2 separate regions of the Homo sapiens genome follow, and region 1 is linked to region 2. Evidence: fine-mapped QTL for protein levels in blood plasma. A gene starts in region 2. The other region holds a variant in brackets. All regions are shown on one strand. Distances are from middle to middle.

What was found. PIP is the chance, under the fine-mapping model, that this variant and not a neighbour inherited with it causes the effect. Protein levels are from antibody-based Olink assays in UK Biobank. Linkage for the fine-mapping came from a reference panel and not from the study's own genotypes, which makes the PIPs less certain.
Region 1: its variant is fine-mapped to the plasma level of the ITGA2 protein (UK Biobank, PIP above 0.99).

The regions. Positions count from the first base shown.
Region 1 is chr5:52,959,185-52,970,636 of GRCh38, forward strand. The region is part of intron 2 of ITGA2-AS1 (ITGA2 antisense RNA 1); the gene reads right to left. It overlaps ITGA1 (integrin subunit alpha 1), which reads left to right. Exons shown (of 29, transcript NM_181501.2): 29 at 1-25. Among named protein-coding and RNA genes, the nearest start is that of ITGA2, 24 kb to the right of the region's middle. The variant C/CA (reference allele first, on the strand shown) is at 6,246.
Region 2 is chr5:52,983,614-52,995,065 of GRCh38, forward strand. It overlaps ITGA2 (integrin subunit alpha 2), which reads left to right and starts at 5,739. Exons shown (of 30, transcript NM_002203.4): 1 at 5,739-5,919. The coding sequence starts at 5,856. ITGA2-AS1 (ITGA2 antisense RNA 1) reads right to left here and starts at 6,673. Exons shown (of 4, transcript NR_186583.1): 1 at 6,477-6,673; 2 at 4,591-4,663. RefSeq lists an enhancer at 3,879-5,078 and a silencer at 5,543-5,692.

The sequences.
Region 1 (11,452 bases), 24 kb before region 2:
TTTTAAAAATGACTTTTTCAAAGAAGAATGTGATTGCTGTGATTTTTAAGTGTGTATATTTTTTCCAAAATTAATGTGACTTCTTCTGAAGCTCCGACCTTTTTTTTTTTTTTTTGATGCTTTGGCAGGTTTTCACTCTAATGCTCTAAAAGGAAAAAGCAAAAAGTAAATTAAGTCTGTCTGTGGTGTTTCCTGTACAAGATTTAGCAATGTGATTAGTTTTTTTGTGAACTTGAGACAAAAACCACAGGATCTATAATACTATATATCTTCTTCTAATGAGATGTTTTAATAATAAATAGTCTGCAGTATAAACATAGATTATACCACATAGGTGATATAAAAAAAATCAAGAAATTTAAACGTAGTTATTTTCTTTATTCAATTTATACTTTATTATATAAAATTATTTAACATATTAGGGCTAGAAGAAAATACAGGAAGAAGTTTTAGTAAAAATAACACATGGTCATCTTATTTAAAATTTCACCCTCAAACTATGCTGTGGGGTGAGTGAGAAGCTATTGTTACAGAAGACACAGACTGAATTATGAAGGGGTTATTTGTCAGGTCATCTACCTAAGTTTTGGCAGAGCACATTTTCACTGCCCTATCTTTTCTCTCTTACTGTAAAGTAAGTGCTTTTTCTCTCTCTTCACCCCTTATCCAGGAAGAGAATACAGTGGAGTTACTAAGGAAGAATCTGGATATATTCACTGGAAAATAAATGGTATACCTCAAGATTTATTATTTGTACATCCAGAGAATATCACAACATTTACTTCCTTACCTTCATTTACTTTGATTATAAAAATAATGTGATCCGCATAGGCAGATGTCAAGTGTAATTTCACCAAACAGAAGTGATCATGAATTAAGAAGACTGAAGATTATGTCTATTTATTCTTTATAACAGCAATATTATTTTAATTGCTTAAAAATATGTGAATATTAATTGTTAAGAAAACATTTATGGTAAAAGGGGGATGTATACACATGTAGATAATTTGAAAACCACAAGAAATAATTTTAAAATAGCCATCATACCAGTACCAGAAATTATATGCTAAAAATCATAAAGAATATAGTACCCTGTACTTTTAAAAACTATAATATTATATTTCTTAATTTTTCTCTAGTAAAAAAAGGATGATGGTCATCAAATACTTTCCCTTGCTTTGAAGTTGACAATAAGGAAGAAAATTACCCACTCGCCTCCTTCTCCTTCTGAGCCAATAACTGCTATACACATACACATACACATATGGCACACTAGAATTCTCCATAGTCTGCATGGAGAATAATTACTTCTTTACCTACTTCTTCAAGCAAAAGTGGGATGGGGCAAAGAGCAAAGAGTGATGGGGGAAAGATGGGTAAGATAATGTCACTAAGAATGATAGCATATTTGGCCTTGTTTATTATGCAAACCAACTATATTATTTTATTAATAATCCCAGAGAAAGAAAGAATTTTTGCCAGAAACAAAAGACCTGGCATCATTACAAGCATTAGCAAAAAAAAGACAGTAAATAAGGAACAGAGGAACACATGAGACAGGAGACATATAGAAAACAAACAGCAATATGGCAAATATAACTCTGGCCATATCAATAATTACATTAAAGGTAAATGATCTAAACACCCAAATCAAAAAGCAGAGATTTTCAGACTGATAAAAGAATAAAGTTGATCTACATGCCCTCTAAAAGAGAAAGACTTTAGCTTGAAAGGTGCAAGTGGGTTGAAAGAAAAATGATGGAATAAAAATACACTACGCAAATAGTAACCATAAGAGAGCTGGAGTGGCTATATTATATCAGACAAAATAAACTTTAAGATGTGTCTAGTTCCAGGCATAGGAAGATTCTAATCTTGTGAAGGAGACAGGGACCCATGGAAATCTGCTAAGCATGTAGATATTCTAGATTTTTGCTTGGATTGACTTTGATGTCCTGTAGATTTTCAAGGACCATTGACACCTGAAATAAAACTCGGATGAAGGAAGAATCCATGGAGTCACCCCACTTTGAAATTTGTCTTAAGTTCATGTGTAGGGGGATCCCTAACCTACACAGATTCTGGTTGCCATGGTCTAATTGCTACCCCAGTGGCAGGAATAATAGAACAGGCATCATAGTCCATAGGCACCTAGGCTTCCAAGCAGTTCACAGATTTTGGTCATGTGCCAGGTCTCTAGTTAGTACTTCACTGGCAAGTGCTGGCTTGAATTAATAAAAGCAGCATTGAAATATCTGTGGGTTTTGTCTTTAGCTTCCACTTCACTCAGCTATTTTTTTGTTTTTGTAGTATCTTTCAACTGATTGTGTGGCATGAATTCATTTAGATACCACAACTCAGAATGGCATTCCAAAGGCAAGAGTGGAAATGTCTCAACTTGGTAAATAAAAATAGCAACCAGATTCAGCCATCAGACGGTAATTAGTGGAGCTGGAAGCTAGCCATTCCAAGGACTAACTATCCTTGATAAAACGCCCAAGGCTCTTTAGCTTTGCATGCTCAATCTCTCCTTTTCTGTTTTCTTCCTTCCTTTACTCAGATTTTTCTATTCTATTTCACTCAAGTACCATCTGTTATTCCTTTTCACACACTTTTCAGACCCTTCTTTTATTCCTGCCCATTCTGCATACCTCATCGTTAAAAGGCGGGTAATTCTACAAAGATTCCAATTAGTGTATTGTTTGACGGCTGATCAGGTTTTCCCCCTTTTAAGATGAACCACTGAATAAATGGTGTAAAGAATGTAGTCTTGTGTTGCCAACATCTTGTCAGAATTTTTTTTGAAGTTTGAGTTCACTATTGTCCACTTGAGTTGCCATTAAGCATAATGTATATCTCTGTGTGAACATGTCTGAGCCCATATGTGAGCAAACACGTGAATGAAGATTGTATTTTTAGATGGAAAGTCATTTGAATTCTGAAAGTGGCAGGACATGTAAGGCAGTAATACAGGGAAAGTAGGTAGTTTTGAATGAAACTGATGGTGACTGGTGAAGTCTCCCAATTTTCTATGGGGAGGGGAAGAAAGGTAAGAGACTAACATTTGTTGTCTGCCTCCCACATGCCAGGCATTGAGCTAGGCAATTTTCCAACATCAAGCCTTTTAATCCTATCAGCAACACTAAATGGTATTATTATTATTATTCCTATTATACAGATGATGTAATTGAGACCCAAAGGACCTAAGGAGCTACTTCAAGGCTATAAAGCTAGTAAGTAGTGATGTAGAAATAAAAACCAAGATCTATCTGAGTCCGAAGCTGCTTCCCCAAGGACAGGAACTTGAGAGGAAGTCACTGGAAGAGAAATGAAAACACAGAGGTAGAGGAGAACACACATCTATTTTGGTAGTACTTGGCACATAGTAACTTTCAGTAAATATTTGTTTATTGCTGAATGGATGCAAAAATTGATCAACTATATTAGTCAGAGATCTCCAGAGACATAGAGCTAATAGGAGATATATACATATATATGTGTATATAGGAGAGATATCTATCTTACACACACACACACACACACACACACACACACACACACACACACACACATATATATATATATATATATATATGGAGAGAGAGAGATTATAAGGAACTGCTTCACATGGCTATGGAGGCTGAGAAGTCCCATGGTCTACGGTCTGTAAACTAGAGACCCGGGAAAGCTGATGGTATAGTTCCAGTCCAAGTCTGAAGGTCCAAGACTAGGAGAACTGATGATGTAAGTGGTGGAAGAAAGCTGGTGGTGTAGTTCTAGTCCAAGTCCAAAGGCCTGAAAGTCAGAAGTGCCAGTGGTATAAGTCCCAGTCCAAGTGTAGGAGAAGACTGATATCCCAATTCAAACTGTCAGGCAGAGAGAGCAAATTCTCTCTTACCCTGCCTTTTGTTCCATTCAGGCCTCCAACAGATTGGATGAAGGCTAAAAACACTGGCCATCTGCTTTCCTCAGTCTACCAATTCAAATGCTAATCTCACTCAGAAACACCCTCACAAATATAACCAGAATAATGTTTAACCAAATATCTGGGCACCCTATGTCCCAGTCACATTGACACATAAAATTAATCATCACAAGTCCACCTCTGTCAACTTGTCACCCATACACATCTCCTTAAGCCATACTTAACCTCAAAATAAAGGCAATAACAAGGTCATAATTTCACCAAACATGATACAATTATCCTGCATACCACTAAAAATGCACTAACCCCTTCCCCAGAAAAGGAGGCAAAGTCTTTGAAATTCACTCTTCTCCTTGATGTCTAGTAACTGAAATACTATGATTGAAAATTAACAATACTTAACTATGATATAAAGTCAATACATCTGCAGTTACATGACAAAAGAATCAGAGAGAGTGAAAATCAAAGATATTTTCTTAATACGTACAAATATAATTATATTTAAAACATATTCACATTCTAAACAAAATAAGGAGGACTATTCATAACAATTACAGTCCTCTTTTTTTTGTAACTGGTCACTTGTAGCTGATACTTACAGCTACCTTCTTCCACTAGCCACTCTATGTTCCTTTTCCCTTCAGCAAGCTCCTTATTTGGTCATGGTTCTTCACCTGGTAGAATGACCCAAATCTTCATTCCTGAAGAGTCTGAGCCATTAGTAGTCCTTCCTGGATTGGGCTGTTGTAGCTTTCCATTGATTATAATCACAAGGTAAGGTAATACTCAGTGACACACTAAGGGATCTCTTGGAATTCAAGCATGTTCTTTCTTACCTCAATTGTGGAGTAGCAGTTGAATTTCTCTTCTGTAGCGAGGATCAGCCACCTCACCCAGTATAATATTATAACTCACTTCTTTGCCTATTGATTCAGAGTCATGAGAAGCTCAAAGGGGCCAGGTGGCAATCTTAATTTCCAGTTCAATGGAATCATTTTTGTGTCTCCTGGTGGGAGCATTCTTCCCTTAGGAACTGAGATCCCTAGGCCACCAGAGCATAAGGTTATGAGAACAGAAAGCAAAAATTTTGTTAGTGGGTCCCTGCGGGTAATAGTGAGTGGAGTCACTCCTATTTCCACCTTTGATTCCTGGACTCATGAATCCTAGTTATTGGAGAAACAGCACCATATACTGGACAGTGATTCAGAGTATATTCAGCCTTGTAGAGAATCTTGTCCATGCCCTCTGATGTACTGCCACCTAGCTGGTGCTATAGCTGAGTCTTCAGAAGGACATTCCACTGTTTCATCAGACCAGCTGCTTCAGTATGGTGGAGAACATGGTAAGACTAGTGAAGTCTATGAGCCTGGGCCCACTGCTGCACTTACTTTGCAGCAAAGTGAGTTTGTCAGTCAGAAGCAATGCCATGGGGAATACCATGATGGTGAATAACGTTTTATAGTTATATTTTTCCAGCTCACTTACATCTCTTTGGCAAGGAAATCATGAACATACAAAATGATCACTAATCATAGACTTGAACCCTTGGAGGCAGTTGAAAAATCACCCAGTACTGGAAACTTCTTTACAACATCCCAAACAGTGAAACCTGGTCTATGCTTGGGCACTTTCAACCGTAAGGTCCTCAGTATCCCAGCTGTAGCTTCTGTTCTGCTTTTGTGAAGCACTAGTTATTTGAAAGTATATCTTTCATTTCAAATTCTAATATTTGCTATGCATCAACAAAAGTCTCTGTATTTATGTAAGTGTTCTTTAACCTATTAAGTATAACTTAGGGCAATGAGTTCCATAAACTTACTACCTATCGTGCAAAGTAAGATTTTATTTAATTTTTCCATTTCCTTATTAATTTAAGATCTAAAATCGCCTCTCCAGTTAATGTCTCTCAATGTATTTACCCTCTACTAACTGTCAGAACTCTCAAACCAGTGTTTTCATTCATCCAAAACATAAAGAAGCAGTATTAGTAGACTGTAATATTAGGATAAAATATAGCAATATTAGAATTATTACTATATAGCCGGGCGCGGTGGCTCACACCTATAATCCCAGCACTTTGAGAGGGTGAGGCAGATGGATCACTTGAGGTCAGGAGTTTCAGACCAGCCTGGCCAACATGGTGAAACCCCATCTCTAGTAAAAATACAAAAATTAGCCGGGCATGGTGGCACATGCCTGTAACTCCAGCTATTCGGTAGGCTGAGGCAGGAGAATCACTTCAGCCCAGAAGGCGAAGGTTGCAGTGAGTCAAGATCACGCCACTGCACTCTAGCCTGGGTGACAGAGCGAGACTTCATCT[C/CA]AAAAAAAAAAATGATTACTATATAATAAACTATTAAACTATTATAAAAATCAAAACAACATATAATAGTGCAAACATAAGTAAGGCATAGTTATGATGCATTTTGCATCTAATGATCTTTTCTCACAGTGACAATACAAGCGGATCCTTGACAGAATTATTAAAGTTATAAGGTGACAGAAATGCATTTTACAAATAACATAGTAGCTTGTAATGGTGCTGATCCAAAAAATACTACCAATTTAAGGTCTTAGATCTTTGTATTATTATGAGAATAGGTAAAATGTTTTACCTCACAACTATTTAACATTAGCCGGCCTGCTTACATCTTTAATACAAATTGAAAACTGGTGAAATTTTTAAATTATTATTATACTTTAAGTATACATGTGCAGAACGTGCAGGTCTGTTACACAGGTATACATAGGTATACACATGCCATGGTGGTTTGCTGCACCCATCAACCCATCATCTACATTACATATTTCTCCTAATGCTATTCCTCCCCTAGCCCCCCACCTCCTGACAGACCCCGGTGTGTGATGTTCCCCTCTCTGTGTCCATGTGTTCTTATTGTTCACCTCCCATCTATGAGTGACAACATGCAATGTTTGGTTTTCTGTTCAAGTGTTAGCTTTCTGAGAATGATGGTTTCCAGCTTCATCCATGTCCCTACAAAGGACATGAACTCATCCTTTTTTATAGCTGCATAGTATTCCATGGGGGCATATGTGCCACATTTTCTTTATCCAGTCTATCATTGATGGGCATTTGGGTTTGTTCCAAGCCTTTGCTATTGTGAAGACTCCTGCAATAAACATTCGTGTGCATGTGTCTTTATAGTAGAATGATTTATAATCCTTTGGGTATATACCCAGTAATGGGATTTCTGGGTCACATGGTATTTCTGGTTCTAGATCTTGAGGAATTGCCACACTGTCTTCCACAATGGTTGAAGTAATTTACACTCCCAGCAACAGTGTAAAAGCGCTCCTATTTCTCCAAAATCTGTTGTTTTCTAACTTCTTAATCATGGCCATTCTAACTGGTGTGAGATGGTATCTAATTGTGGTTTTGATTTGCATTTCTCTAATGACCAATGATAATAAGCTTTTTTTCATATATTTCTTGACCATATAAATGTCTTCTTTTGAGAAGTGTCTGTTCATATCCTTCACCCACTTTTTGATGGGATTGTTTGTTTTTTTCTTGTAAATTTGTTTAAGTTCCTTGTAGATTCTTGATATTAGCCCTTTGTCAGATGGATAGATTGCAAAAATTTTCTTCCATTCTGTAGGTTGCCTGTTCACTCTGATGGTAGTTTCTTTTGCTGTGCAGAAGCTGTTCAGTTTAATTAGATCCCACTTGTTAATTTTGGCTTTTGTTCATTGCTTTTGGTGTTTAGTCATGAAGTCTTTGCCCATGCCTATGTCCTGAATGGTAATGCCTAGGTTTTCTTCTAGGGTTTTTATGGTTTTAGGTCTTATGTTTAAGTCTTTAATCCATCCTGAATTAATTTTTGTATAAGGTGTAAAGAGGGGTCCAGTTTCAGTTTTCTGCATATGGCTAGCCAGTTTTCCCAACAACGTTTATTAAATAGGGAATCCTTTCTCCATTGCTTGTTTTTGTCAGGATTGTCAAAGATCAGATGGTTGTAGATATGTGGTGTTATTTCTGAGGCCTCTGTCTGTTCCATTGGTTTATATATCTGTTTTGGTACCAGTACCATGCTGTTTTGGTTACTGTAGCCTCATAGTATAGTTTGAAATCAAGTAGCGTGATGGCTCCAGCTTTGTTCTTTTTGGTTAGAATTGTCTTGGCTCTTTTTTGATTCCATATGAAATTTGAAGTAGTTTTTTCTAATTCTGTGAAGAAAGTCAATGGTAGCTGGAGGGGGTTGCATTGAATCTACAATTAGTTTGGGCAGTAAAGCCATTTTCATGATATTGATCCTTCCTATCCATGAGCATGGAATGTTTTTCCATTTGTTTTTGTCCTCTCCTATTTCCTTGAGCAGTGATTTGTAGTTCTCCTTGAAGAGGTCCTTCACATCCCTTGTAAGTTGGATTTCTAGGTATTTTATTCTCTTTGTAGCAATTGTGAATGGGAGTTCACTCATGATTTGGCTTTCCATTTGTCTATTATTGGTGTATAGGAATGCTTGTGATTTTTGCACATTGATTTTTGTATCCTGAGACTTTGCTGAAGGTGCTTATCAGCTTAAGGAGATTTGGGGCTGAGACGACGGGGTTTTCTAAATATACAATCATGTCATCTGCAAACAGAGACTGTTTGACTTCCTCTTTTCCTAATTGAACACCCTTTATTTCTTTCTCTTGCCTGATTGCCCTGGCTGGAACTTCCAATACTATGCTAAATAGGAGTGGTGAGAGAGGGCATCCTTGTCTTGTGCCTCTTTTCAATGGGAATGCTTCCATCTTTTGCCCATTCAGGATGATATTGGCTGTGGGTTTGACATAAATAGCTGTTATTATTTTTAGGTATGTTCCATCAATACCTAGTTTATTGAGAGTTTTTAGCATGAAGGGCTGTTGAATTTTATGAAAGACCTTTTCTGCATCTATTGAGATAATCATATGTTTTTTGTCATTGGTTCTGTTTGCGTCATGGATTACATTTATTGATTTGTGTACGTTGAACAAGCTTTGCATCCCAAGAGTGAAGCCAACTTGATTGTGGTGGACAAGCTTTTTGATGCGCTGCTGGATTCAGTTTGCCAGTATTTTATTGAGGATTTTTGCATCAATGTTCATCAGGGATACTGACCTAAAATTTTCTTTTTTTGTTGTGTCTCTGCCAGGTTTTGGTATCAGGATGATGCTGGCCTCATAAAATGAGTTAGGGAGGAGTCCCTCTTTTTCTATTGTTTGAAATAGTTTCAGAAGGAATGGTACCAGCTCCTCTTTGTACCTCTGGTAGAATTTGGCTGTGAATCCATCTGGTCTGGGCTTTTTTTGATTAGTACGCTATTAATTACTGCCTCAATTTCAGAACTTGTTATTGGTCTATTCAGGGATACAACTTCCTGGTTTAGTATTGGGAGGGTGTATGTGTCTAGGAATTTATCCATTTCTTCTAGATTTTCTAGTTTATTTGCATAGAGGTGTTTATATTATTCTCTAATGGTAGTTTGTATTTCTGTGGGATCAGTGGTGATATCCCCTTTATCATTTTTTATTGTGTCTATTTGATTCTTCTCTCTTTTCCTTTTTGTTAGTCTGGCTAGTGGTCTGTGTATCTTATTAACCTTTTCAAAGAAACAGCTCTTGGATTAGTTGATATTTTTAAGGGTTTTTCGTGTCTTTATCTCCTTTAGTCCTGCTCTGATCTTAGTTATTTCTTGTCTTCTGCTAACTTTTGAATTTGTTTGCTCTCGCTTTTCTAGTTCTTTTCATTGTGATGTTGAGGTGCCAATTTTAGATCTTTCCAGGTTTCTGATGTGGGCATTTAGTGCTATCAATTTCACTCTACATACTGCTTTAGCTGTGTCCCAGAGATTCTGGTACATTGTGTCTTTCTTCTCATTGGTTTCAAAGAATTTATTTCTGCCTTAATTTTGTTATTTACCCAGTAGTCATTCAGGAACAGGTTGTTCAGTTGCCATGTAGTTGTGTGGTTTTGAGTGAGTTTCTTAATCCTGAGTTCTAGTTTGATTGCACTGAGGTCTGAGAGACTATTCGTTATGATTTCTGTTCTTTTACATTTGCTGAGCAGTTTCCAATTATGTGGTCAGTTTTAGAATGAGTGTGATGTGGTGCTGAGAAAAATGTATATTCTGTTGATTTGGGGTGGAGAGTTCTGTAGATGTCTAATAGGACCGCTCGGTCCAAAGCTGAGTTCAAGTCCTGAACATCCTTGTTAATTTTCTGTCTCGTCAACGTGTCTAATAGTGACAATGAGGTGTTAATGTCTCCCACTATTATTGTGTTGGAGTCTAAGTCTCTTTGTAGGTCTCTAAGAACTTGCTTTATGGATCTAGATGCTCCGGTATTGCGTGCATATATATTTAGGATAGTTAGCTCTTCTTGTTGCATTGATCCCTTTACCATTATGTAATGCCTTTCTTTGTCTTTTTTGAACTTTGTTGGTTTAAAGTCTGTTTTACCAGAGACTAGGATTGCAACCCCTGCTTTTTTGCTTTCCATTTGCTTGGTAAATATTCCTCCATCCCTTTATTTTGAGCCTATGTGTGTCTTTGCATGTGAGATGGGTCTCCTGAATACAGCACATTGATGGATCTTGAACCTTTATCCAATTTGCCAGTCTGTGTCTGTTAATTGGAGCATTTAGCCCATTTACATTTAAGGTTAATATTGTTATGTTTGAATTTGATCCTCTCATTACGATGCTAGCTGGTTATTTTGCTGGTTAGTTGATGCAGTTTCTTCATAGTGTTGATGGCATTTAATATGTTTTTGCAATGGTTGGTAATGGTTTTTCTTTTACCATATTTAGTGTTTCCTTCAGGAGCTCTTGTAAGGCAGGCCTGGTAGTGACAAAATCTCTCAGCATTTACTTATCTATAAAGGATTTTATTTCTCCTTCACTTATGAAGCTTAGTTTGGCGGATATGAAATTCTGGGTTGAAAATTCTTTTCTTTAAGAATGTTGAATATTGGCCTCCACTCTCTTCTGGCTTGTAGGGTTCCTGTAGAGAGATCTGCTGCTAGTCTGATGAGCTTCCCTTTGTGGGTTACCCAACCTTTCTCTCTGGCTGCCCATAACATTTTTTTCCTTCATTTCAACCTTGGTGAATTTGATGATTATGTGTCTTGGGGTTGCTCTTCTCAAGGCATATCTTTGTGGTGTTCTCTGTATTTCCTGAATTTGAACGTTGGCCTGTCTTTCCAGTTTAGGGAAGTTCTCCTGGATAATAGCTTGAAGAATGTTTTCCAACTTGGTTCCATTCTCCTCGTCACATTCAAGTACACCAATCAAACATAGGTTTGGTCTCTTCACATAGTCCCATATTTCTTGGAGGCTTTGTTCATTCATTTTCATTCTTTTTTCTCTAATCTTCTCTTCACTCTTTATTTCATTAAATTAATCTTCAATCTCTGATATCCTTTCTTCCACTTGATCAATTCAGCTATTGATACTGGTGCATGCATCACGAAGTTCTTGTGCTGTGTTTTTCAACTCTATCTAGTCATTTATGTTCTTCTCTAAACTGGTTATTCTAGTTA
Region 2 (11,452 bases):
TTCAAACAAAATAGGAGTTCATGTCACTCAAGATGCACTAAAAGTTAAATTGCAAAATGGCTGAAAAGGAGAGGTCTTGGCTTCAGAAAAGAATAATAACTACCTAAAGAACAAAAGTTCGTGTTCTTGGCAGGAAATTTTAAAAAAAGAAAAATCATCTGGTGTGGTCATACAGTGTATCAAACTGAAGAAGACCCTTTCTTTACTGAGTTAAAATTAAGTCTATAGAATCCTAACTGGAGACAAGCCATGGAAAACTAAAGGCACTTGCAAGTTGAAGTTACAGGGCAATGGAAATGATGAGTAATTAAGGAGGAAGTCAGCCTACAGAGAAGACAATAGAGCAGGTACACACAGAGAAGCAAAGCCAACAAGTCATGAATTCCCTAAAAGTTGCAGAGAGTTAATTAGGTTCTTATCTTCCCAGTCTCCACTTTAAGTACCCAAGGGCTATAATTCCTGTCTTTGGGTTCTCAGAAAGTTCTTCATATCCTTGCAATTAACTATTCTTTGACTTGGGCTAGTTTAAATATGATTTATTTTTCACCCCTGAAAAATAACTGCCCTCTAACTGGAACATGCAAGTTTTCCAGACAGAGTAGAGTAGCAGATAGCCATAAGCAGCCTTAATCCTTCATATGACACATTTCTTTAAAAAAGTCTAAAGTATGGATGAACAATGTTTCCCCTTCATTGAACTTTTCCATGTCCTAAGAGATAAAATTCTTTTTTTTTCGGGTTCATCTTAACAAATCAAGACATTAGTGACTAGTTGAAGAAGTATGTTTATTCATTTGGGGAACAAACATTCATTGAGCATCAACTCTGTGTCAGGCTCTATTTTAGGAACTGTGAGTGAAAGAAGTTAATGAGACATGTTAACTTGGAAGTCCTTAAGATTTCCCAGAAGAGAGACAGATATGTCTTAAACGTAGTCTAGTACAAGGACTAGAAACCTGCTCAAATTAGCTTCAGAGAAAAAGAGAAACTATTATTAGGTTGGTCCAAAAATAATTGTGGGTTTTGCCACTGAAAGTAATAGAATGATACACAGATATTTCATGGATGTAAACCCAGGAAGAACAGTCAGATCTCACACAATGGCAAACAAAATTAAAAGACCTAGAACAATCTCTCTCCGTGTCTCTCTCTTTCTCTGTCTGTCTGTCTCATGCATGCACACCTCAGTTTCTTGGTCTCTCATATCTGTCTCTGTTTTTGATAAATGGTGCAGATTGGCTTTTTCTACACTCATTGAAGAAAATGAATGGGCTGGGCATAATTCCAACACTTTGGGAAGGTGGGGCAGGAGGATTGCTTGAGGCCAAGAGTTCCAGACCAGCCTTGGCAACACAGTGAGACCCCATCTCTATAAAAAGAAAAATTAAAAAATTAGACAGGTGTGGTGGTGCATGCCTGCCCAGCTACTCGGGAGGCTGAGGTAGCAGGATCACTTGAGCCCAGGAGTTTGAGGCTGAAACGAACTATGAATACCACTGCACTCTAGCCTAGGCAGCACAAAGCCCCATCTCAAAAAAAAAAAAAAAAAAAAAAAGGCGGGGGGGAAAAAAGAAAGAAAATGGTTGTACAAAGTGAACACAAATTTCCATTTCATGTGATCAGCAAAGATTCTAGAATCTGTATACCATGAATGTAAATCCCTAGGAGATTGATCGAGCTTGGTCAGGTGTTTGGCTTAGCGACAAGGAGGCAGGATTATGTGACTCAGTGACTTCTAGAAGGGGATCATGGAAGACTCTGAGAAAGCCCTATTGGCAGAGCTGGCAAATAGCTTTGCATGTCTGCCACAAGCATGAAAACAAGTAAGGCCAGTCAACCGTAGTTGTGCTAGAATCGAAATATGAATATGATTCATCAGTGTATTGATGGGTCCAGGAAGCTAGGAAATCTAGAATTATTTTATTTGTTTTGTTTGTGTTTAAGTTAGGAGTGTCTCTTTTATTTTGGCCATTATGCACCCCAGCCAGTGCTTAGAGACTTGTGTGTGAGTCAAGCTCAATGGATTCTAAGCTTTACTCACTCATCCCATGGATTCACTGAGTAACATTTGAGAAGCCACTGGTTACTTCACTTCAAAATTACTAGGACTTACCTAGAAGTTCATATTTACCACCCTTTTCAGGTCTAGGGAGAAGAATGTGGAATTGTTAGGAAACTCATTTCAATGTATTATAATAACTATTAATATTTATTAGAAATTTATTTACTAGGTATAGGACTAGACTCTTATAACAAAAATGTATAAGATTTCAGAGACCCAGCATTTAAATGAGAAGGTAGAATATACACATATAACTCAATAATATATTACTCTGTAATACATACAAAAGAAAGTTTATTTGGGGGAAAAAACAAAAACAAAAAAAAAAAGCTAGAGGAAACCAGAGCCAAGAAAGAAGAATGATTAGTTCTCAGTGAAGAAAATGGGAAAGGCTGGGCTAATAATATAGAATTTGACTGGAGCCTTGAAGTAGAATTTGAAACAATGGAAGAAAAAAAGAAAGCTATTCTAAGTAGAAAAATAAGGAATTGACAATGAAGAATGGGAAAGGCAGGCCAGTGAACTCGTGAATTTGGCCTAAACATAGTGTGCAAGAGGGAAAGATAGCCACGGAGCCCACAGAGGTGAGTTGGAGCCAAATCGTGACCTTAAACCCTAGGGTACTTTGAATGTCCTGAAGACATCTAATGATTTTCAGCAGATCAGTCCTGCATTTTTGGATAACTGTGACAACAGGTATAAAAGATGAACTGGAACAGGAGAGAAGGAAGCACAGAGAGATTATATGGGAGTTTGTCACCATGGTGAAAGATCAAAAGGGTTTGAACCAAAGAGAGATTAGCAGTGGAACAGAAAATAGGAGATGGCACAGAAAACCCTAGTAGGGTGTAAAGACAGAATTGGAATGGGATGTTAGCAGGGGGCTGGTGGTGCACCTGGGGAAGAAAGCAGAGGTTTCTGGTTTGGGTGATTGTCTATATGAAAACGGGATAAACAAAGGAGGGCAGGGCATGACGATACAACAGATCAGAAGGAAACACTGGGGAAACTTATCTGAGCCGTGTTCCCCAACAAAACTCTGTCTTGAGCTAAGGAAAAGAAAAAGAGGGGAAGGCCTCACTTCACCCCTGAGTGCTTTTTGGAGTAGGGTCTCTGGGTCTCTCAAGATCCTTTCAAGTGGCCAGTGAAGTCAAAACTATTTTCATAACAATACTGAGACGTTACTGCGTTTTTCACTGTGTTGACATTTGCCCTCATGGTGCAAGAACAAGGATGGGGACTGGTGGTCATTGTATTCTTCATCACTGGGCACTCACAGGAAGAGAAAGGGAGAGGGACACGGAGAGGCCAGCAGATCAATGAATTTTAATGCCACGGAATAGGAAAAACCATTGATATGGTTTCAGATTCCACATTGCAACTTTAAGAAACTACCACTTGTTGAGTTTTGGTGTAGTATCAGGGGATTATCCAGAATTATCTCCTGTTTTTCTAAGTCCATATCTGTGTAACACCAGATTAATCAATATAATTTCACCAAAACTACATGCCGTAACAGATTGGATGCAGAAGCAGATCTGAGAATCCAAATGTCTGTTTTTAAGCCAGATATTTAAAATATTAGCAAAAATGTAAAGCAATGCCACTCTTCTCCCGGATTCTTTCATTTGGAGAAATATAGTTATTTTTCATAAAATGTACATTATTTATGTTCACACATAATAGGATTTTTGTTAAAGGACTTACTGAGTAAAGGGCTCTTGAGACCAAAGAGTTTGAGAAGCCCCAGCTTAACCTTCCATATTTCCTGCTCTGAATGTGGTGTCCCTCACAACTGCAACTAGGCAGGAGAGCACCCTGGAAGGGGTTCTCAAACTACTTTGTCTCAGGAACACTTTATCCTCTTAAAATTAATGTGAGGCAGGAGTTTGTTCTTTGTTTCTAAAAGTTTTGCCTGGCTCTGGAAAATCGTAGCTCCTGACTTATTCTGCACTTCATGACAGTGTAATGTTAATTTGTCCAGTTCTGAGAACAAAAACCAAGAAGGATGCATGTTATTTCCCCCCACCCCCAGAGATAAAACACAAATTCCTGTCTCACATTAAAGGAAGTGTCCTGCCTCCCAAACACAGGTCTGTTCCAAACACTTACTCACATTTCAGTGAGTCAGAAGGAAACAGACAGATATTCATCTCCCTGAAACCTGGCTGACTTCCTTCAAAAAGTCTGTAAGGAGCGTCAAAATCGTGTCACCGGTTAGTGAGCAGCCACCTAAGAGCTCTCAGGTGATAGCCGGAGTTTTAGTAAGCAGGTGAGTACCCCAGACAATTCAGAAAAAAATGCCTTCAGGTGTTTGTCAAGGTGAGTAAGTGCAGCCAGTAAGTGACTGATAAGAAAACAGGAAAGAGCCTGGGACTATATAATTTGGGTTCAAAGGGTATTAGTCATAAGCCATCAGCAGCAACATCTGATGCATACCAATTTAATACTTTAACAATGTGACACATCAGCCCTATCTATAGTAAAGAGAAGAGCTTGATTTTTATGAATTATTAAGTCCTTCCCACCTTGAGCCACTTTGCTTCCTAGAGGCAGTATCTCAGGCATCCCATTCAGCTCATAGTAGCATTCCATGAAGATCTGGAATGATGACAATAATGATGATTATTAGACTCATAACTCCTTAAGCTTGATTTATGAAAACAGTTCGTTCCTTCACAAAAGTAGTCACTGGAAGAATTCTGGTTTCAGCAATGTGCTGGAAATTTGTGGCCAAACTTTTGGATAAAACATAAGATTCAGACAAGAAAAATTAATATCCTATTTCTTAGGTTTTTAACTAAAAATCTCGGATATAGAATGTTCTCTTTCCAGATGTGAGACTGAAATAATGGAAGAAAATGGTCACAGTCTATGTCATGGTGTAATGTAGACAGGGAGAGTCACAAGTGCATGTATGGGCTCTCAGCCTTTTCTCTGGCCTTGAAGTTAATCTCCTAAACTCAGTCATTAAATCAGCTCTTAATTATCTCGGAGGAGAGGAAGTAATGATGATTTCTCTCTCTCTGTCTCTCTGTCACACACACACACACACACACAGCTCTTGCAGCAGGTATTGCTTAAATATCACCTTGGATAATCATAACTTGTGAGCAGATCTTCTTTCCTGATGAGTTAGTTTCTAACCTGGTCATTCTGCGCTTATTTTTGTCCCTTTCTCCACCCACTTAGGAAAAACAGAGAAAGGGACGCACCGCGCAGCCCCTAGGCACTGTGGTTTAGGGCTAGTGCCCTCGGCACCCGCTGCCAGGAGCCGGGCGCTGCCAAGGGCTGCGGAGGGGCCACGTTCTCCCGGGGACTGGGGCATCTCCTGCGTGCTGGCGACAGGCTGCGGGGGCGGAGTGGTGCCAGGGCGGGCGCTCGCCCGTCGGATATGCCCACCCGTCCCGTCCAGGGCAGGAAAGCCTGCCAGGGCGCCATCCCCATCCCCACCGCCTCCAGGCTGCCGGGGCTGGGCCGCTGTACGGGAGCCAAGGTGCGGTGCCCCGCGTGTGGACGAGCCGAGGTGCAGCCCGCGGGGCCGCAGGGCCGGGGTGGGGCGGGGCGCGGCCGGAGCAGATCCGGTGTTTGCGGAATCAGGAGGGGCGGGCTGGGGCGGGCCCTCGGCGCTGCAGGAGCTGCCCAGAAACTTTTCCCTGCTCTCACCGGGCGGGGGAGAGAAGCCCTCTGGACAGCTTCTAGAGTGTGCAGGTTCTCGTATCCCTCGGCCAAGGGTATCCTCTGCAAACCTCTGCAAACCCAGCGCAACTACGGTCCCCCGGTCAGACCCAGGATGGGGCCAGAACGGACAGGGGCCGCGCCGCTGCCGCTGCTGCTGGTGTTAGCGCTCAGTCAAGGTAAGCGGGGATTTCGCTCTGCATCGGCTGCAGGAGGGACCCGCGCGGCTTCCTGGGGCTCGCTGGAGGGATTGGGCGGAACTAGGGAGCGAGCTCCGTGTGTTCCCTCGGATTCCACGTGGACTCGGGCTCCCAGCCACCAGGACCTGCTTGGAAAGAGATACTTCTTCGTTCCCTTCCTGCTATCCCAGGCCTTGCGTCCCCATTAGGCGCGTCTCGCCCTGTCTGTTAAGCACCCTCCAAAGTCATCTCAGTGAGTGCTTTGTTTTAGGTACACACACGCACACACACACACACACACACAGACAGACACGCACGCACTCAAGCATGGACAGTGTGGGGATCCGCGGGTGTCCTGGAGACCGCGAGTCCTGCAGCCCAACTTCCCCTGGCTCAGACAGGTGCCGCGCCTGCCAGAGACCAGGGAAATCCGGAATCCATTGCTGATGGCGGCCTGCAGCTCCCCAGCGCGGTGCTTGCTGGCTTTGCAGAAGCCTGCGAGCCCCAAAATGCTTATTTTTCAACCCAAGGATGTGAATAATGCCTCTATTTCTTACTTGAGGACGAAGCGCTGTGTTTCTTCCCGGGGGGACTTGGAATAAACCAAGCGCCACTTAAATACTTGGCAGAGGGGAATTCTTCCTTCCCTTCTGCCTTCCTCTTATTGTTGTAACATTGTCTATTCGACGAATGTAAACTTAGGCTAGGAAAAGTTCTTTTCACTTCTGGATCCTAGATGCCGCAATGAGAGAATAAGCCGGAGCAGCCGCTCTAACTGTAGTGCTGTGGCAGTGGGGCCCGCCCACCTCCTGAGTTCTTTTACACTAAGAGGAGGAAATAAGGCTGGGGTGGAGAGCTTTTGTGGGACCATCGCCTGAGTACTTTTTCCCTGACCATTAGGCAGAGCTAGAGTGTGGTCAAATTTAAGAATTTTAGTTTATTTGGAGGGAGAAGGAGACACGTTTGTATAATGTAGTTTGAACAGCGATCAAAACAAAACAAAAAAGTTGTCTCTGATTTTAAAGTGTGTGTGTGGTTTTTTTTTTTTTTTTTTACAAAGAAGATAAATATTTCCTAAGCTGTCCTCCTTTGAGACTGACATTCAGCCACTTGCTATTCTTTATTGTGGAGGAATGAATCCTAGTCCACGTCAACCTGGTGGCATTTTCTCCAGGTCAGAGATAAGAGAGAAATAGCACCACTGTCCCCAGCCCGAGCAGAGAATGGGCATCTTAGGTTTTCTGTCTCACCTGTATTGGGTGCTTCAGATACTTTCTCCGGGAACCAGATGAGTTGTTTTGAGGGGCCACCAACCCTAATCTACGGATTTCAGGTAAAGTTGTACTTGACATTGAAAATGAGTCTCTGGAATACAACTAGAGCTAATAGAAATATAAACCCAAGCTTTTCATCTCTCTGTAATTACCCAGTATTAAAATAAGCTGTGGAAACATAACATCATTTTCTTATCTTTGAAATGTTGAGGCTTGTTATGTAAAGAGCAGTGAGAAATTCTTTAATGGAATGTAACGCTGCAAGGCATGAAGTCAGGAACAGAGACTTAACCTGGAGTTAATAAGGACACCTCAGGGCAAGCAAGCAGAGATGATCGAAAATAACATCTGCAAAAGTTTTGTGCATTTATTCCCTCCTCCTACTCCAGCCATTTGTATACTCAAGGAACAGGTTTTCTCTTAATTTAAGATCCTCATAAGAAAGCTCTCTCATTTGTGATATCACTTGAGGTTCCTGGAGAAGCAGCATCGTTTTTTGGTACCATGAGTATCCCAGGTTAACATGAATAAGTGAAATCTCTAGCTCAGTAGTATCTAAAATTTTGTATGGCATTACCCTATCTGTATAAAATTTCTCATTCACTATCATTACACACACACACACACATAACTGTTATAAAATTATAGTATGTACAATTGCATCATATCACATACAAAAATTCAAATTTAAAAGCTATGTATGTGACAGAGCTTCATTATGATGATCTTAAATTAAGAGAAAACCTGTTCCTTGAGTATACAATATGCCGTGTTATGTATATACAATTGTATATACATATATATACCTGTTAATATGTATAAAACACATGTGTGTTTAGACATCTTGTATCATCTCTAGCATACATGCAAACCACTTTAAAAACATATCACCTTCAAATCTTATTTTAACACTTACATTCAAATTTGCTTTCCAGAAACCTTTTCACAGGTGCTTAAGAAGAAAATGTACTCATAGTTTAGTCCTATATTTATCACCTTTCAGTGCTCATTTCTAAGTGCTTAATACCATGAAAATGGTAAATGGGCAGTCTGAGGATGAAAAAGAGAGAACATAAGAGGCCTAGATAATCTATAAACTAAATATAGGCCATTAGCAGAAGGCAAATGTAATTTTGAAATGAAGGCCATCACGTATTTTCTCCAGTATGTTCACAGGTCAAGGATAGTCCTTCCACCCAGGTTCTAGACCACATCTTTTCTTACTATCCCTGAAACCCTGCCCCAGCACTCATCCCTCTTCAGTGCACGTCTTCAAATTCTCTCCCTAATGTAACTTCCCCTCAGTCTGTAAATATTCTAATTTTTCTTATTGTAAAAAAAATATTTCTTTTGATATTTAATTTCCTCCTGAAACATCCTGTACTTCTGGCTTCTGTTCTCTTCCTGTTTTTCTCCTCCTTTCCTCGCTGCTCTCCCGTCATCTCCTTCACAGGCTCTTTCCTTGTTGGTGTTTGCAGAGTTTCATCCTGAATCCTCCTCTTCATTCTGCAGATTGTCTCTGGGCCCATTCCCTGCACAGGTCCCTATCTCCAGCCAGCCTCCCCTTCTGAGTTCCAGATCAGTATTTCCATCAGCCACCAAATTTCTCCAGCTAGACAGTCTGTAAGTAAGCCAGATTCAACATTTCCAAAACTGAATTTAATACGTGTCCTCCAGAATTTTCTCCTCTATTGGCTACCATTGTTTAATGGCAGTATTATTATCACACAAACATGAAAGCCAGGAATTTGTCCCCATGTTTTCAACCTCACAGCCACTCTCCAAATTCTCTTGGCTCTCCTCCCATCCATGCAACTCCTGCCACCCAGTCAGTCCCTCATCTTATGTCTGTATGTAACTTTTAAACTGGATTTTCTTTTCTTATCTCTCCAACCCATTCTCTTCATTTTCACTAATGATATCTTTCTAAGACACTTATATGTTTCCAATTACTGCTTTGTTTCAAATGTTAGTGGCTCCCCATCTCAGGTAGGGTAAAGTGCCAATTTCTTGGCATGTCATAAAAAGGTACATTCTACCTATCCAATCTTTTCTTTACTGTATGCTTTCCTGAACACAAATACACATTCACACACACACACCACACACATGCCCACACATGTACACACTCTAAAGCCATCTATATACACCATTCTTTGTTATGACTACACCTGATCATACCATATTTAGTGTGAAAATATTTTCCAAATACTCCCTTTGCCTTCATTGCATTGTTGCTTTCACCCCTTTTCACTCATCTCTTTGCAACTGACCATTATCCAATGCTAGAAGGGTCAATCCCAAGCAAAATTATAAAGTAGAGAACTTTTACTTTTGCAACAAAAAGGAAAGCTTGAGGTAACCTACCTTTGCTGGGTCCCACCCTAAACCACCTCTCTGGTCTCATCCTCAGCCCCTTAATGGGACTTAGGCCGCCCTCTGATAAAGTAACTTTGCTCCCCTATGGCTTAGCAGTTATACCTGCCCAACCTCAGCTAAGCTTTGCTCTCTTAATACTAGGTCCTGAGCCACTGTTTGACTTAAATTTATGGACTGGGGTTTAGGATTCAGTATTTACAATGGCTCATATATTTCTGATGTATGGTCTGGTTTGGAAGTGATTGCTTAAATATCATCACTGCCTCCCCACTTTCCTAAGATTAAAATTCCAGTGTTACCTACCCCTTACCACCTTGTGGGATGATCACCAAGACAGGTAGATTTCAACATCAAGAGTTAGTGGCTGTGAGCGGCTGTGTCAGTTAAATTCCTTCCGAAGTGGATGATGACTACTCCCTGTCTTCATGTGCTGACAGCCCTGGAGATATTAAAAGGTAGAAGCTTGTTAATGTAAAGAGATGAGCTTCTCATGATGTAATTTTAGACATTCAGCAAAATAAAGACACATGTTCAGTCAATGTGTATAAAGTCAAGAATTTCAGGAAGAATGGGGAAAATATTTGGGGCCAAAAGTGTCCAGGCATCACATAAATTCTACCACTAAAGCCATAAGTCTTGACTACCAACACTGCTCAGCTTGGGATATTAGTAAAAGATTTAGCACAGCATAAAACAAGAGAAACCATGAAAGATCACCGCTCTGATTGGCAAGTGAAAGAAATGGAAGGTTGGTGGAGTTCTTTTTTTCCAGTTGTTCAGTGACCAATCATTTACCAGCAGAACATACAGAAGAGTGGCTCCCTACAGGGGAGAATCCTAGCACTGCAAATCATGAGACAATAGACTCTGTGTATGACAGTGATTCCTATGCCCCTTCAGGTGATCCATAGAGGCTTTATTGATCTGGCTACAGTGAATTTCATAAAACTAATACTTGATAATATTCTTATAAGGTATCTACTTTATGTAAGGCTGTGTGTTAGGCTCAAGGTGGAATCAGAGAAAACTTAAAACATGGCTGAGAGAGGTTGGAGTTTATTTGGAAAAAAATCCAAACATGGGGAAAGGAAATTGTCTCAGCCCTGAAGCATACTTAACCAATTTCAGCCCCTTGTCATCTTCCTTTCTAGCAGAAGTCCATTTATTGAGTTACCATCCTCTTCTGCATAGCTAAAAAATTGAGGTGATGCTGAAGGGTGATTAGGCTGGTCCCAGGCATCTGGGCTGTGTCTGATTTAGCCATGGGCATGTAATGCAAGGTTGACCAATGAGATCTGCTGGGTGACTTATGGGAAAAGAATTTTCATTCCTAAGAGAGATATTTGTTAAAGAAAATATTGTCAAGTTTATATGTGAAATTTGGAACAACTACAGCCATCTTGCAACTGCGATGTCAACTAGCTTAAGGATAAAGCTAGTATATTGGAGTTAGCCTTATGGAAAGAAATGGACTTTGATGTTGTCTTTGAACTTCTGAATTATTGGAATTTAAGACTATAGTATGTCTTGGTGTCTTTAAAATTTTCATATAATTTAAAACTTGGTTATATCATTTTCTATAACTTAGAGAGCTGTAACATCAGTTTCCATAGCATAATAGATGTCATGTGTTCACAATTAATGAGTGGTACAGATAACATGTTGAATTCAGAGGATGGAGAGATATCATTGTGATACATTGAAGTGTCTAGCCTCCTGAGATGTCTTCATGGAAACAGGTAAGAATCATTACAATTTAGATCTGCCATGAAGAACCTCAGAGATCCTGGAGTACAGTTTCTACCTTTTAAAATGGATGTAAGTGATACTAGAAAAGCAAGCAACATAACTAGCAATAGGACTCGTCTCCTAGTTCCTGG